Linked DNA regions of Homo sapiens: region 1 is linked to region 2. Evidence: fine-mapped expression QTL. A gene starts in region 2. The other region holds a variant in brackets. All regions are shown on one strand. Distances are from middle to middle. Region 1 overlaps ARAP1 (ArfGAP with RhoGAP domain, ankyrin repeat and PH domain 1). Region 2 holds the start of ARAP1 (ArfGAP with RhoGAP domain, ankyrin repeat and PH domain 1).

The links. PIP is the estimated chance that this variant, and not a neighbour inherited with it, causes the effect. A credible set is the group of variants that fine-mapping cannot tell apart.
Region 1: its variant is the best candidate, but not a certain one, in a credible set for the expression of ARAP1 in whole blood (INTERVAL, PIP 0.85).

The regions. Positions count from the first base shown.
Region 1 is chr11:72,677,811-72,686,127 of GRCh38, reverse strand. ARAP1 (ArfGAP with RhoGAP domain, ankyrin repeat and PH domain 1) reads left to right here. Exons shown (of 35, transcript NM_001040118.3): 34 at 1-86; 35 at 447-1,059. The coding sequence ends at 464. Among named protein-coding and RNA genes, the nearest start is that of PDE2A, 7.5 kb to the right of the region's middle. RefSeq lists enhancers at 835-1,394, 4,863-5,688. The variant A/G (reference allele first, on the strand shown) is at 3,229.
Region 2 is chr11:72,748,294-72,756,613 of GRCh38, reverse strand. It overlaps ARAP1 (ArfGAP with RhoGAP domain, ankyrin repeat and PH domain 1), which reads left to right and starts at 4,206. Exons shown (of 35, transcript NM_001040118.3): 1 at 4,206-4,286. It overlaps STARD10 (StAR related lipid transfer domain containing 10), which reads left to right. Exons shown (of 7, transcript NM_006645.3): 6 at 861-913; 7 at 1,472-1,885. The coding sequence ends at 1,717. RefSeq lists enhancers at 3,566-3,795, 4,406-4,525, 7,185-7,344 and a silencer at 4,066-4,355.

The DNA.
Region 1 (8,317 bases), 70 kb after region 2:
TGGGTAGTGTGTCACTGATCCCCCTTCGAGGTAGTGAAAATGAAATGCGCCGGAGTGTGGCTGCCTTCACCGCGGACCCTCTGTCTGTGAGTGGCTCTCCATGCCTTTGGGCAGGGGGCTGGGGGCCTGGCTGGGTGCCTGCCTTCTACTCCACAGTAGATGATTGCCCTGATTGCCCTCCCCGATTGCCCTCCGGCCCCCTCCCTCCAGCCTTGGTGGGGGCCCTCATAGGCCTCTTTGGTTCACACCATTCAAAGGAGCCCCTTCTGCCTGGCCCTGGAAGCTGGGAGTCCCCTCTGCCTGGCCCTGGGAGCTGGGAGCCTGGCTGATTGGAGTGCTCCCCGGCTGGCAGTGGAGAGTGGCTGCAGCAGCTGCAGCAGCTTCAGCGGGGCGCCAGCCCCTCTGGGCCTTCACAAAATACCTGTGGGTCTCTTGCCTTCCTGCAGCTTCTGCGCAACGTCTGAGCACAGGAGCCCATCCTTGGCTCTAGGATTCCGCCGCTGGAAGCCTTCTGTTCAGACACCCCTTATGCTCCAAGGCCTGATGTGAGCCAGCGGGGGGTGCATGGGAAACTGCACCCCACAACCCACATCCTCCATCCTGACTGCAGCATGGGGTTCCCCGGCAGGGGTGGGAGGCAGCAGGGGTCAGCCTGGGCAGGAACCTCTCCCAACTCTGTCCAGGTGTTCAGACCTCTTGGCCCAACCTGCTCACCCCACCGGGTTCACTGTCCTTGTGGGGCTGGAGAGATGGGCATAAGTCAGGAACTTGGGAGGACCACCACCCTTTCAGAGGCGTGAGGCCCTGGGGCCCTGCCGGAAGGGAGCCCCCTGCTCCTCCCAACAAACTCCAGAACAGCAGAAAGCGGGTGCTGTAGAGGAGCACTCAGCTCACGGGGAGGGAGCTCTTGGCTGAGCTTCTACAGGGCTGAGAGCTGCGCTTTGGGGACTTCAGCCTTCCTTCCAGTCTGGGCTGAGTGGGGGGTCCAGACTACCTGATGCCCCTTCCCCAATTTGGGGACTTTTTGATAATATAAATATATCTGTATATTTTACCCTATGGTGCTGAGGCCTGTGATTGGCTAAGGGGATTGGGCGTCCTGGGGTAGGAGGGGACAGGAGGTCGGGAAGCCCAGGGGTGAGTGCCTAGTGCCTGAAGCTGAGAACCTAGGCCTTGCTTTCTCCAGGCCCTGAGCTATTCAGACGACCCCCTTCCCCAAGCAGAGCCCTGGCTTGACTCCATGCCTTCCCCATTGTACTATCCTGCAGCCAGGCTGGGAATGCCGGTCCTTTCCTGGCCAGCACTGACCCTGGCTGGACACAAGCCCCTGTCCTGCTGCAGTCCGAGTCTGAGTCCCAGCTGGGGCCTGGGTGTGGTGTGTCAGTGACTCAGGCCTGGCAGCCCTGCAGCAGCCCCCTGCTGGAGACACAAGGTCAGAGCCACAGGAGCCTGAGGAAATTGAGAAGAAGCACCTTTGGGTCACCTGTGGCCCCAGTGCCTACCCCTCCAGAGGTGGGGCCTGCCATGCACCAGGGGGCTGCCCTCACTGGGCACTGCCTGGCCATCTCCACTAAGAAGATGAGGCCCTGGCCTGCAGAGGAAATAATGAGTTGCTCAGAGATGGGTTTGGGACTCCCTGGGGAGGTGCCAGACACCACATTCCCGCCTCTGCCTAGAGCCTCATTACCACCCGCTCTTCGGGGGCTCAGTGGGCGGACAGGCTGACCTCCATCCTTAGCCTCAGCCAGTGGGGCTGGGCAGAGTGGGTGGGGATGGGCCATGTGACCTCCGACTCAGGCATCCAGCTCAGTGGGGAGCCTGGGTCCAGCGGAAGACTTGGGGAGCTGGACTCCAGGTTCCCTCTCGCTGTCTCAGGAAGGGGAGGTATATGGCAGGAGACTGGAACCGGTTCCCTGAGTCCTACTGACCTATTTCACAGGCTGGGGCTAAGCCCCTTGAGTCTCCCACCTCCTGTGGGTCGCTCTGGCCAGATCCACAGGTCGAATGTCTGACCCTTCTGCCTCCAGCCAGGACAGGTTGGACCCCCTTATCCAAGTGCTGAGGGGCTGGAATCCGCTCCTGGATCTGACCTTGCACTGCCCAGCCAGCCCTGAGGCCCACCTGAGTGGGTGAGACTGGAGGCGCCCCCTGCTCTGCTAAGGCCACTGCCCCAGCTCAGCGTGCTGGCTGCAGTCCTGCACTAGGCCACAAGGCGGCAGCCATGGACCACTCATCATTGCTGGAATCAAAGCAGGGTCTGGAGGATGCCTGAGTGGTGGTCCTGGCCCAGACCTTTCTCTGCTGGGGTGTGAAGCGGGACCCAGTTCTGCCTTTGGCCTGCAGGCTGGTGACATTCTGGAAGGCAGCACCATACAGGAATGTGCATTGGAGTCCTGGGCTCTGGGAACCAGGAAGAGGAGGGAACAGCCTTCTACCAAGTACCTGCTGTGAATCGGCCCCTGTGCCCCCTGCACTGTCTGCTCTTGGCAAGGGGGAGCTAGGCCCAGAGAAGGGAGGCAACTTTCCCAAGGTCACACCATGCTCGTGAAGCAGGCCTGAGGTCCATTTCCCCTGCCCTACTTTGGTGGGGTCTCCCTCTTTGACTCCCCTCCTGATTCCAACCCTTTTCTCCTCTTAGAAATGGCCTGAGGCAGGGGGTCTGAACTGTCAGGAGTTAGTGATGGCTTAAAGTGATTTCCCTCTGGTAAGGGGTAGGGGTGACATCCAAACAGGAGCCTCAGGGCCTCAGCCGGAATGAAATATGCCTGTGACAACAGTGTTGGATGGGTTAGGGGCAGGAGGCTCTGCTGGTCCTTGTCGCAAGGATTCCTAAAAATGGGGCCTGTTGGGACCCTGGATGGTTTGCTCATTCACATATTATTTGAAGTTGGGTTGCCATGGATGAGTTGAAGACCCCAGACCTGGACCTGCAGAGGGGCCAGGAGCAGCTCTTGGAAAGGGAGGGGCTTCCTGGACAAGGAAGTGCTCCTGAGCCAGCTTTGAAGACCGGAGGCCTTGCCAGGTGTGGTTGGGGTAGAGGTTGAAATACTGAAATATTGGGGGAGGAGGACAGGGCTTCAAGGACCAACCCAAATCCAGGCCTAGCCCCTGGGGAATACGGGGAGCCCTGGGAAAGAAGGCCGAGGCACGTCAGAGCCTGGATGGTGAGGGCACTGCAGGTGAAGGGGAGGCTGGGGGGCAGAGGGGAGAGGGGCAGGGAGGTGGGGT[A/G]GGATGTCTGCCTCTCTCCTGCCTCCTTCCAGCACAACCTTCCTACCCTGCAGAGTTCTGAGGAGTCCTGGGGCTTCTGGAGAAGGAAATCAGTGGGACAGGGAAGGGCAAGAGCTGGGGCTTCTTTCCTGGCCTCATGCTCTGGTGGCCTCCAAGCCACCTGCCCACAGCCCGCTGTCTTGGAAAGCACGCGTGTGGGTGCCAGTGCTCCTGTTTACAAGCTGTGTGACTTTGCCTGAGTTACTTAGGTCTCTGATCCTCAATGTTGTCATCTGTACTTTGCGGGTATTAATAGTAGCTACCTCCTAGTGGTTTGGGCAATTAAATGAGCTAGTAAGTGTGAAGTGCCTAGCATTGCCCCTTGCTAATCCCCTTCCCACTGCACTGTCTGCAGTTTCTGAGAAGGTATCATGGCATATTCTAGTCCCAATATATTTGCACTCAACAAGCACTTATTGAACACCAACTGTATGCAGAGCGTTACTGAACACTGAGGGGGAGCAGATGAGTGAGTGGTGTGGAGGAAGGTAGAGACCTCCTGGTAGGGGATATTATCAGGAAAGACTGGAGGAGGTGAGTCTGAAAGGAGAGGCAGTTCTCCACAGGTGGAGGAGAGGAAGTGGTCTGAGCACAAGACAAGGGGATGTGACCCTGCTGTGGTCACTACCTGCTGTGGCTGGGACACAGTGCCCTACAGCACCCTAGGGCCTATCCCCCTTGCGCCTGCCTCTGAGATATGACCACATCCCAGTCCAGTGGGCTCCTTGGGATCATCCCCCATCAGAATAAGGAACAGTTCCTATTCTCTTAGCCAGCTCTGTGACCTAAGTGACCCTGACCCTGCTCTGGGGACTGTCTCTCACATAAGTGCAGTGGCCTGAACCTCCCAGCCCTTCCTCCACTACGACACCTCCTTCAGGAAGCTCTTCTGGGTTGCTCTCCCATCCCACTGTGCCTACTTAGGGTATGCGTATGTGCCCAGGTCACCACACCTAGTCAGGGACTCACCTAGGGAAGAGCAGTCGGGGACAGTTTCCCTGGTCAGCCAGGGTTGGCCCAGCCCTAGCATGTCCCTTCTCCTACACCACTTCCAGCCTGTGGAAATTTCCATACTTTCTCTGCCCTGGTTACAGCTCCTACTGCTGTATTTATCACCCTGGAGACACAGTGGCACAGGCGCACACATGCCACACACACTCAGGCCTGCACACACGTGCCTGCACACCTCAGCCTGCTTCTCCAGATCTGCGAGTGCATGCTGCGCGCACACACACACACTCGGCACGTGGATGAGCACACACACACGGCACGTGGATGAACACCCACCCACACACAGCTCTCTAGGAAAATTGCTCCCCTTCCCTCCTGCTCCTCCTCCACCCTGTCCTCCCACCACCACCCACTTCCAAATGCTGAGACCAAAGAGATGGGCTGGACGGTGCCTCTCACCACTTGTCAGCCTGGGACGCCCTCCTCCCTTTGTGACTAGCATGCCCTCCTCCCCCTGCCCGTCTGCCTCCCCAGCTCTCTCTGCCTCCCTGTCGCCCTGCCACCTCCCTGCGTTCCTGTGTATCTGCCCTCCACACAAGTCACTCTGAGGCCTCTCTTTGTTACTCTTGACTCTGAAGTGGAAACTGCTCCTCCCAGCTCTCCTGAGAGGCTCAGGATGGGGACCTGACCTCATAGGGCTGATGGAGGCATAGGGACAAGTGAAAGGGACCCCAGGTCCCGAATCTCCTCAGCTCCTGTCACCTTCAGTCCCTCCTATTGGGTTAGGGGAGGGCTGTGTGCCTGGCACCATGGAGACCAGTGTCATGGCAACACAGTTCGGGTGGGCACAGCTTCCTCCTCCTGGGGTGTGGGGTCCATAAGAGGAGGTGCCGAGGAGGTGGGCCTTGTGCTGGTGCCCACCATGGCTGCCTCCAGCTCACCATTCCCAGGACAGCCCACCCCCATCCCCCCAGCCAACTTTGCTTGCCACTGCAGCTTCCAGTGCCACAAGTCACTGATCCCATTTGGGAAATCCTCTCTCAAACACCAGCTCCAGAGCTGGGCGCCAGAGAGGGCAGGGGCTTGCCCAGGGTCACACAGCAAGTCTGGCCAAGCTCCTGACTCTCAGACCTGTTTTCTCCTCCGGTCTCCCACCTTCCACCCAGAAAGGGGACTGGGGGCAGAGGGGTCAGTCCAACCTCAGTTCCCACCACGATCTTCAGCCAGCCCTTAGAGTTGGCAGTGGGAGTGAAGATGCAAGTGATAGTGCCGAGAAACCATCATGGGGCGCCCACCACCTGCTGTGCCAAGGCTTTGCATGTGTCATCCCATTTTATTCCAAGACCCAGGAGGAAGATGACTGGTAAGTGGAGTAGCTGGGACAGGAACACAGGTCCCTCTCAGATGGGGCAGGTGAGTCAAGGCTCGTGTGTATTGCTGTCTCCATCAGGCGCTCTTTTAAAAGAATGGCAAAGCTTTTAATCCCATCTTTATTACCGGTAAGAGTGTAGGGGGAGGATCTGGGGCATAGCCTGGGTCTGGCCTTAGGGTTTCTAGAAACCAGGGGATATTTTTCTAAGAAGATAGAGAATAGAGCTTTCCTAGTGTGGTTAGACCTAGGGAAGACCTTTCTTGCAGTGCAGCAATGCAGACCGACTTCCAATCCCTAGGTCAAGCTGGAGTCTAGGGACAGAGGGGAGGAGACCCCTGCCTCCTGTGCCCAGCCTCAACTTGTCTCCTGACCTTCATGGAGTCACGTTGCAGCTGCCTCCCTCCTGGCTTATGTAATAATTCAAATATAGCAGCTGCCTTTATCCCACTGAGTCACACCCCCTGCATCCCCCCTCAGGTGCGGGGAGTTATGGGGGAAGAGGTGGTTCAGGGCTGAGTGGGAGGTTCGGGGCCTCCTGGCAAGGAAGATCCCTAGTGTGCTGGATTGGAGGGTGGTGGTGGTGAGGGGGCTGGTGCTGAGGCCCCAAGAAGAGCAGAGCCTTCGCCAGAATATGAAGCCACAGGGGCCACTTCTGCCCTGACCCATCCCTGCTGGAATTCCACATTCCTGGGGGCCCTCCCCAGAGTCACAAGCTATATGTACAGCCTTCTCTTGTGGGCTGCTGTCTCAGTTGGAGGAGGAAGGAGAGGTGGAAGAGTATGAAGAGGGGGAAGTAGTCCGGTGGGGCAATGGCCACCGTCTTTGGTCCTAGGCTCAGCCTCGCCCTTCACTCACTGGGTTACCTGGGCACCCCTCTGACCTCAGTTTTCCCATCTGCACAGTGAAGGATTAGATTAACTGGCTCTAGCGTCTCATTCTCTCTGATTTATAACCCTGGAGATGATCTCAACCTGAGGCTGAAGGCACTTCCGAGTGTCTGGCCCAGCCGCGTTCCAGGCTGACTTCCCTCCCTCTTTTCTCTGCCATCCCTCCTAGACCAATGCAGCCACCCCCACCCACAAGACAAAAGAGGCAGGAGAGGGCCCTGGACTCAGCTGGGGCTGGGCGGCTTCTCCCTTCCCTGAACTCGCCATCTGTTCCAGCCCCCCAGCCCCCTGCCTAGCAGCCATGGGTAGGTCACTGCCCTCACCTGGGGTCACCCCTTCCTCCCCGGAGAGCTCTGACAGATATCCTGGAACCTGAAGTGGATCCTTCATGCCCCATCCTGAATCCCAAAGCCACCTTCCTGAGGTGTTGAAGAAGCTGCTCCACCTTGGAACTACTATAGGGGCTGTGGTGGCCTTTCATTCCTTTATCAGCAAAAGCTTTTGTCACTTGTGTGGTGGGGGACATGCTTAGTGTGAGAATGCAGAGACCCATGCCAGGCCCTACCCAAGGACATGGTGCTCCTTCAGCCATTGTCATCAGAGCCACAGAGGGGAGCTTCCTGGCAGAGGAGGAGTGGGGAGAAGCTGTGGAATGGCTCCTTGAGCTCCCCACTCCACCCCTTCCCCATGCCTGGGCTCCCATTGCAAAGACCCAGATGTGGGCTTATCCTGTCCCCCAGCCAGAGGGAGTCACCCAGGGGTGTTCAGGCCAACCCTTTGTGAAATCCATGTTCCACCAGTTACCAGCCTTTCTCCGGAGAGCTGAGGGCTGTCTCACACTGGGTAGTCTCAGCCTGCCCTGGGGTTGGGGGGGTGCTCACAGAGCAGTAAGCGTCACTGCCTGCATCCCCACACACCTGCATTATCTTGTCTGCAAGACACGTGTGCCCCTGAGCTGAGCTCTGTTGTGCACCACCCGATTTCCGTCGGCCTCCTTTCTGACTTTTCTCCATCAACATTTCCTGCTTGGGCCTGTTGCGGGCTACCCAAAGGCTGTGGACTGGGGCCGAGGTACATAGGACTTTGGCTTGTCTTTTGAGCTAACAGGATCCTGTAGAAGAAATGAGATGAGCCTGAGAGGGGGTCGGGGGGTGAGACATTAGGGAAGGGAGAGGCCACCAAGGGTCTCTAGCCCAGAATCCAATGCCCCTTCCTGCCTACCTGTCCTTGTGGGTGGGAGGCAGGGTGTGTGCTGACTGGCCCAGCAATGGTGGGCTAGGATTTGGGATAGGCAGAGAAAAGGAAGAGGAGGGGGAAGTCGGCCTGGGAGGAGAAACACTGTACAAAGTCGAGGAGGAGAGAACCAGAGTGTGCTTAGGGACCAGACCTGGCCCCACCTGGAGCAGAGGATGGTGAGGTCAGTCAGGGCTGGATCACAAGGGACCTCAAATGCCAGGCTGAGGAGCTTGGCCTTTATCCTGAGGGCACTGGGGAGCCCTGCAAAGGTTTTGAGAGGGAATTCCATTACCAGATAGATGTCTTTGGAAGCCGCCTCTAGGTGCAAGGAGGAGGTGGAGTAGAGAGGTTGACCTGGGGTAAGGGTTGGAGCATGACCAGGGGAGGGGGAAGGAAGCAGGGGGTGGGGATGGAGGGAGTGGATGGATCTAAGAGAATCTACTGTCCTTTGGAACAAACGATACAGGAAGTGTAGGAGAGGGATGGGGCAAGGCGACTTTGAAGTGTCCAGCTCAGAGATTGGAAGTTTGCTGATGCCTTTGGGAGGCCAAGGCAGGCAGATCACGAGGTCAGGAGTTGAAGACCAGCCTGGCCAATATGGTGA
Region 2 (8,320 bases):
GGCAGCCCTTCCCCGAAGCCTCCCCTCCTCGCCCCTCCAGGGGTGCTGTGGGTGTCACCTCCTGATCCCTGACACTCAGGGGAGTCACTGGCTCCCTGTTCTGTAGTCCATTCCCCTCTAGTAGAACAGTCGGCTCCTGTTGGGCCCCCAGTGAGTTCCTCTCTGGGTCCCCAGGGCTGGCCCAGGGTGGGTGTCACAGTGAACATGGAGTGAGTGAGTGAGTGAGTGAGTGAATGACTAGAGGATGGGGAAGCCTTGAGCATCCTTGCCTGGAAATGCTTCAAGCCCCAGAGCGCACAGTGGTCCAGGCCTAGCACTCCCCCGGCACCTCATTGTGTTGGGTGTCAGAGGTGGAGTGGACACTTGGGAATGAGATAGGGTGGAGAGCTGGGCAGTGGATTCCAGGTCAGGCCAGGCTGGGGTGCTCAGCCAGAGGCCTGTGTGGTCAGGGGAGGACTTGGAAGGACAGGCAGGGGAGGGGCTGAGCGTCAGGGGCATTCCTGGGAGGGAGGTTAGGTTGAGAAGGGATGTCAGTGTGATTGAGTGAGGCAGCAGGTGCAGCAGGGTGGGTCAGAGTTTCCACCCATGTATAGCCTGTGCTTACCTAGGACCCTGTGGTTTTCTTCCACGTAATCTTTGAGGCTGGGCAGAGGGAAAGTGGGGGACAGAGCTAAGCCTGAGGACTTCGGTCTGAGGTGGAAGGGAGTGAGGGTAAAGGCTTGTAGGACTTGCCTCACACACCTCCTCCTCATGGGGAAGACAGTGGCCTCCCTGGAAGCTCTGGGCAGAGGGTGGGGCTTTTGTCAGGGGCGGAGGGGCTGGGTCCCTGAGGCTGCTTCCTCCCTTCCCTGCCCTCACAGGCTCCTTACCCAAGTGGGTGGTGAATAAATCTTCTCAGTTCCTGGCTCCCAAGGTGAGTGGCCTTGGGATTTTGGGGAGGGGTGTTGAAGACTGGAAAGAGGACTATGGAATGAGGTGGGTGGAGTCAAGCCTGGAGCCTGAGGGCCAGGCGTGGTGGCTCATGCCTGTAATCCCAGCACTTTGGGAGGCCTTGGCAGGTGGATTACCTGAGGTCGGGAGTTCAAGACCAGCCTGGCCAACATGGTGAAACCCTGTCTCTACTAAAAATACAAAAATTAGCTGAGTGTGATGGTGGGTGCCTGTAATCCCAGCTACTCGGGAGGCTAAGGCAGGAGAATCACTTGAACCTGGAAGGCAGAGGTTGCAGTGAGCCGATATCATGCCACTGCACTCCAGCCTGGGCCACACAGTGAGATTCCGTCTCAAAAAAAAAAAAAAAAAAAAAAGAATGGAGAATGGAGCCTAGGGCCCAGGGAGGGCAAGTAGGGCTGAGGAGTGAAGTTTTGAAAGGGAGCCAGTCAGGATGCTGGGGGCTGAGCCGCTGGAGGGGGGTGTGGAGAAGACCTGCCCCCTAGCCACCCCCTGACCCGGCGGGGCGGCGGGCCCACAGGCCATGAAGAAGATGTACAAGGCGTGCCTCAAGTACCCCGAGTGGAAACAGAAGCACCTGCCTCACTTCAAGCCGTGGCTGCACCCGGAGCAGAGCCCGTTGCCGAGCCTGGCGCTGTCGGAGCTGTCGGTGCAGCATGCGGACTCACTGGAGAACATCGACGAGAGCGCGGTGGCCGAGAGCAGAGAGGAGCGGATGGGCGGCGCGGGCGGCGAGGGCAGCGACGACGACACCTCGCTCACCTGAGCGCCGCACCGCTTCAGGGACGGAGACAGGACCGGGCGAGCCCTGGGGCGGCGGCCGCTCCTGCACTTTCTCCCCTCCCCCACCCGGCACCTGGTGGCACCGGGCCAGGCCCAGGCGGGTGCTGCAGCCTGGCTGGACAGAGCCCCAATAAACGATCCCACAGCCTCAGCCGGCTCATCACTGTGCCTGCTTCCCACCTGCCTCATGGCCGCTGCCGCGGTCCCCTGCGTCTGCCCTTAATTTTGTTAAGGTTGTTGATCATCCGGCCGTTGATCCTTCCAGCATCTCCTCATTTCCCATTGTGTAGCGGGGAGGAGACGGGGTTTATCACTGCCCCCCTTCTGTCCATACTCTGTTCCATTCTCTGCCCGTATCTATCCAGCTGTCCTTGTTGAGCGGTCATTTTGGCATTCACGCCAGGCTATTTGCTTTCTTTTTCACTGCTTTAAGGCAGCGGTCCCCAACCTTTTTGGCACCAGGGACTGGTTTTGTGCAAGACAAATTTTCCATGGATCAGGATTGGGGAAGGATTGGTTTTGGGATGATTCAAGTGCATCACATTTATCATTAGATTTTGATAAGGAGCGCACAACCTAGATCCCTCGCATGCGCAGTTCACAATAGGGTTCTCCCTCCTATGAGAATCCAATGCTGCTGCAGATCTGACAGGAGGCGGTAATGCTAGCTCAGCCTCTGCTCACTTCCTGCTGTGCAGCCTGGTTCCTAACAGGTTCCTGACAGGACCAGTACCAGTCTGTGGCCCAGGGGTTGGGGACCTCTGCTCTAAGGGAAGGAGCAGGCCTTGACAGAGACCCTGGGTCAGGAGTCAGAGGGTGAGGTTCTACTCTGTGTCCTTCGGCCCAAGGCCCTTTGGGTCCAACCTATGGACTGGGGTCTGACACTCCTGTCATCCCAGAAGGGAGGTGGAGGGGTCCGTGGGTCTCAAGCCACAGGGCTGTGGGTCTCAGAGCTGAGGCTGGGGCAGCATACCCTGGAGGGAGGTCAAGGGTGCAGGTGAGGGGCCTCAGATTCCAGTGCAGTTGGTGGGGACCAGGCTTGGTGATTCACGCCCTCCCTAGGTCATTTTGAAGACCTCAGGACTGTGTTAACAGAAATGGTAGGGTCCCCAGACCCCCTATCCCCTTGCCAGTGGTCAGATGCCAGCCTTCTCACCCTGTGCTGCACCTCGCTGGTCTGAAGTCTAGAGGGACGCCTGGGCCTCCCCTGTGATCTGTGGCCCCCAGGTGCCCTCTGCTGCCCAAGGGACACCCCTGCTGCCAGGACCAGAGGAGGGGCCTATGCTCTGCTCCTCTGCAGTGTTTTTGACCCCATATGAACTTGGGGCCCGGAAGTTCTCCGCAAGGTCTGGCCCTGTTCTCCCCTCCCGGAAAGCTCCTTTGCCTTAGCCCTACCACCAGAAGACACGGTCTACTCAGTCAACTCTTTCCCAGAGGGACAGGGTGAATGGCCAGTGGGGGGCAGGCAGGAGATTCTAGAACTCATAAAAATGGGTTGCTTCCCAGCTTTGCCCAACACTGGCTTTGTAACTTTGGGCAAGCCCTCAGACTTCTTGGAGCCTTATTTCCTAACCCATAACCTGGGATGATAATTTTTGCCATCAAGCAGAATGTAAGGATTGAGATAAAAGGAATAAATTGCCCAGCACTGGGACTAGCATGCAGTAGGTGCTCCAATTAATGACACTTTCCTCTTCTCAGGGGGTAAACCCTCATCCCCCGCAATGTGAGATCTGTTCTTCCAAATATACCCTTTGTGCATATAAAGAAATTGAAGCCCAGGGAAGGTCTCTGGCGTGGCTGGCCCCGGAGGTGTTCTGGACACAGGACCCAGAAATGTCTGCCAAGCTTGGTACCCTCATCTGTGTATGTGCTGGGAGGATGGGTGGGAATCTCCTGTTCTCTAGGTGTGGGTGCTGGAACCTCAGGCTGCAGCCTTCCGCTGAGGGATCCTTGGGAGGTGTGGCTGGGTGGGTAGCTTCCCCACAACCCTGCCTGTGGGCACCCAGGGAGGGAAGTGAGATACCCTTGAAGAATGTGGTGGAGGAAGGATTTCCTAGAGGAGGTGGTCAGGCACCACTGACGGCCTTCAACTGCCTCCTATCCCCCTGGGGGTGTGGCCCTCTTGTGGGTGGGGTGTATGTCAGGGCAGACTCACCAGAAGAGGGGTGGCGAGAGCAGGGAGACTCAGGGAGAGGTGGACTCAGCGGGCGAGGTGGCGGGGGTTAGACCTGAGCCTCAGGAGACAGTCGGAAGACCCGCAAGCAGCTAGAGGGGCAGGAGAGAGACACAGACCGACGGGTCCGGCGGGCGGGCCAGGCCAACCAACTCCAGGACCGTGACTAGGCGGGGGGAGGGGCCGATGAGGGGGCGGGGCCCTGCCCTGCCCTGCCCCAGCCCCACCTTCCCCTCCCCGGGAGTCACGTGGGGCGGGCGGAAGCGCCCGGGGGGGTGGGCGCGCCCGGCCCCTTGCTGCAATTTGGCGGTGGCGGTGTAAGTCGGTGGCGGCGCCGGTACGCCTGGTCCCCGCGTGGAGTCTTTACTCAAAACAGGTCAGTGCGGCTGCCGGAGCCTCCCCGTCTGCAGGCCCCTCGCCACATTGGCCTGCAGTTTCCCCATTCTGCAGAAAGGAACGCCGAGGCCGCGCGCTGCTTCTGCTTCCCCGGGTCATCTTGTCTGTTTACCTTTTTGGGCGTGATGGGGGGGTCGCCTCTTGAGGATAAGCCAGCGGGCCAGAGACGGTAGGGAAGGGGGGTGAACCAGCGGGACCCGGGGCTTCCAGCCCGTAGCCCTTTGGCGTGAAGGGTCTCTGGAGTCAGCCGCCCTCGGGCGCCTTGGGGTTCCCATCTGTGAAGTGAAGGCTCCCACCTCGTTGGCCGCTGAGACCTTTACATTTCTGGAGATCTGTACGACCCTATGCCCTGGGCCTGGGGCTCCAGTGACCTTGGGCAGGCTACTTCCGGTCTCTGCATCTCAATTCCCCACCAGTAAATGGGGCATGGCTTCCCCAGAGCCCCTACCTGGCCCAGTTGCTGGTGAAAGAAAGTATGTGCTCAGGGAATGGGGTCACGCTGGGAGTGGGGTGGTTGGGCCTGGAGAGAGCAGGCTTAGGGTGCAGCCTGGGGGCAGGGGATGGGTGTTTGGTGCAGGGCCGGCGGGGAGGGGGGGAATCTGGCCAGAAGCCATCACGCTGTGGTTTCTGCTATATACCGTCCCTTCCCCCACATCCCATATCCTGGGGAGCCTTCCCTGATCCCAGATAGGTGGGAGGGGGGTGCTTCAGGGCCAGATACCTGGGGGTACTCGGAAGGATTTGACTCTTTGGTGGGTCCCAGGGTCCCAGACTGAGGCACTCATGATACCTGTTCGCGGAGAGTCCCCAGAGGCCAGGCTGGGAGAGACTGCCCAGCAAGATCATCACAGGGTAGAAGGAGCCCAGCAGAGCCTTGAAGACAGGTGTGGACAGGTGCAGGCCCCAGGGGAGGGGATGACTGGAATGGGCTTGGCAGTTAAGTGGCAATTTACAAGGATAAGGACCCTCCAAAGGCGAGGGCGTAGCTTGTGCAAAGTCAGGAATTTGGATGGTGTGTCTGAGGAATGGCAGAAAGGTGGGTGTGGCTGGCAGAGGTGTAGAGAGAACTCATCCTGTGTCCCATTCCTGGCTGGGGATTGTCAGGACTGGGCCTGGGGACCTTGCCTCCCCATTGGCTACTTGCATATTGGAGTAGTTTAGGAAGGGGGTGTCCCAGGCAGAGTACCGGTGACTGATGAGGTGGAGGGGGCAGAGGCCACCAGAGCCCTGATGGCCCCCAGGTTTTGTTTTGCATTCAAGCCTCCTACTCAACCCCAGCTTTATACCCCCACCACCTGGGCTCCAGCCATGCTTCACACATCCAGCCTCAGCTTTTTGTACAGATTGTTAATCCTCCTCCCAACCCTCTAGAAGCTTCCTCCCCATTCAAATCCCCAGGTCCTTTGGGACTTCAGGTTTCAGAGATGGGCTGCTGTTGCCCCTCCTTCCTGCCCAGCCTTCAGTCTTGTGTAATGGCACAGCTTAGGAAGGGTCTCCTTGGAGCTCTGTGGGGATGGGGCCTGCAGAGCCATGGGGATCATGGGACCTGGGGCCCCGAGTCCTTGTGCAGCCACCAATCACTATGTGACTCTACAAGTCCCCAAATTCCTCAGAGCCTCCATTTCCCCATCTGCAGGATGGAGTGATCAGCCCTGGCCTCATGCCCCAAAGAGAGACGGTGCTGGGGCAATAGTCAGGCCTATCTGCTAAGATGCTGGGGCAATAGGCCTATCTGCTAAGTCCTGTCTCCAGCATTGAGAGTTTGAATGAAAGAAAGAGAGAACCCAGGGGAAGGGGTCAGTTTAGAGGGGTTGGGGGGGTGTCTGAGAGTATCGGGGGCTAGTGGTGGACCAGGCCTAGGGCATCGGCTGGAGGTGGGGAGTCCCTTCCATTTTCCGGAGCCCTCTCTCCTTCCCACCCAACTCTCCCTTGGCTGAGCTCAAAGCCACCCGCCACTGCCCAAACAAGTGGCCTCTGTTCCCAGGGTAGGGGGAGGGGAGGCAGGCCCTGGGCTCCAGGCCCGCCTGTCCAGCGCTGACCCTGGCCCCCCGCCCCTCACTCTAGGTCTTAACCCTTGGGGGCCTGGACCGGGCCCTGGGCTCCTTGAGGGCTGGTGATTCTTGTTCACCAGCTGTCCCCTCTACCCCGCTTCAGGCTCCCAAGGGTTCTGTCACATCAGGAGGGGATGCAGTAGGAAATGGGGAAGGAAGGAGGGAACAAGGGTGGGGGACAGGCTGGAGCAGATATGGCCATGGACACTTAGAGACCATTTGGCCTAAAAGCTTCTTTCACAGATGGGGAAACTGAGGCCAAGAGCTAGAGATGAGGGTAGGATCACACAGAGACCCCTGGTGGGGGTCAGGACAGGTTCTGTCTCCTAGTCTGGCCTCTCTGGGGGAAAGGGGAGAGAGGGAGAGGGAACTTTTTTTTTTTTTTTGAGACGGAGTCTTGCTCTGTTGCCCAGGCTGGAGTGCAGTGGCACAATCTTGGCTCCACCTTCTGGGTTCATGCCATTCTCCTGCCTCAGCCTCCTGAGTAGCTGGGACTACAGGCGCCCGCCACCACACCTGGCTAATTTTTGTATTTTTAGTAGAGACGGGGTTTCACCTTGTTAGCCAGGATGGTCTCAATCTCCTGACCTCGTGATCTGCCCGCCTCAGCCTCCCAAACTGCTGGGGTTACAGGTGTGAGCCACCACTCCCGGCTGGGAGAGGGAACATTCTTTGTTGAGTACCTGCTGTGTGCTGGACACTGCACATTTGTCATCTAATGATTTACATAATTGCATAAGAGCATAAGACGACCATCACCCTCCAATATCATAGTGGAAGTAACAGCCTTAGAGAAAGCTGAGTAATAACATCAGTGAGAATGAGGTCAGCAAACATGCCTATAGCACTGTTGTAAAGTTTTATCCATATTAACCAATTCCACCCTGCCAATAACCCAAGAAATTAGGTGACATTCTACAGATAAGGAAACTGAGGCACAGAGAGGCTAAGTAACTTGTGTAAGAATACATTGGGAGGGTGGTAGAGAGACAGGGTCAGGACCCAGGTGTTCATTGCCTCCTTTGTCTGACTTCACTTTGATCTTACTCTTTGAGCACCTCCCAGGGCTGAGTGAGGTGCTTTCCCCGGGTGGTGACCGAGGCAGCCTTGAACAGTGTGTGACCCCAGCTAAGCTGACCCAGTCCCCGCTCTGGAGCAGAGTCCAGTCCCTCGGGCAGCTCTTCTCATTTCTTTCTCTGGTCTTGGGCAGGTTAGAGTCAGCACCCTCCACAGCCCTGTGCAGAGAGGTGTTATGTTTTAGAAAGGAGTTCTGTGCTAAGGGTGGCCACTCCAGGGTTCTGAACAGCATGAGGATTTGGTGGGTGGGGAGACATCCCCATCCAATGTGCATGCCCCACAAAACTCAGAGGCTGCCGCTGAATCAACCCCAGTGTCCCCAGCTCTGATCAGAGATAACATTTTTTCCACCTTCCCCTACCCCTGGCCAGGCCCCCAGACTGTATGTGCATTCCAACCAGGGATCTGAGGAGGACAGTCCCACCTGGAGGCAGATGACCCCAGATGTGAAAGATGGTGGGGGGCAATGCATGGATTGTGTTCCACATGGTCTTCCTGTGGAATGTCTCTTTTTCTCATCCTTGGGCCGTAGTACAGAGGGGAAGAGCCTGTCCCATAGTTAGGTTATCTGTCCTAGGCCACTGGGACAGTCAAAGAGTGGCTGGGAGGGGACGTGGAGTTAAGTGACCAGTTCAATAACAAATCATTTTTTTTTTTTTTGAGATGGAGTCTTGCTCTGTAGCCCAGGCTCAAGTGTGGTGGCATGATCTCGGCTCACTGCAACCTCCGCCTCCCGGGTTCAAGCGATTCTCCTGCCTCAGCCTCCCGAGTAGCTGGGATTACAGGCACGCGCCACCATACCCAGCTAATTTTTGTATTTTTAGTAGAGACGGGGTTTCACCATGTTGGCCAGGATGATCTTGAACTCCTGACCTCGTGATCCGCC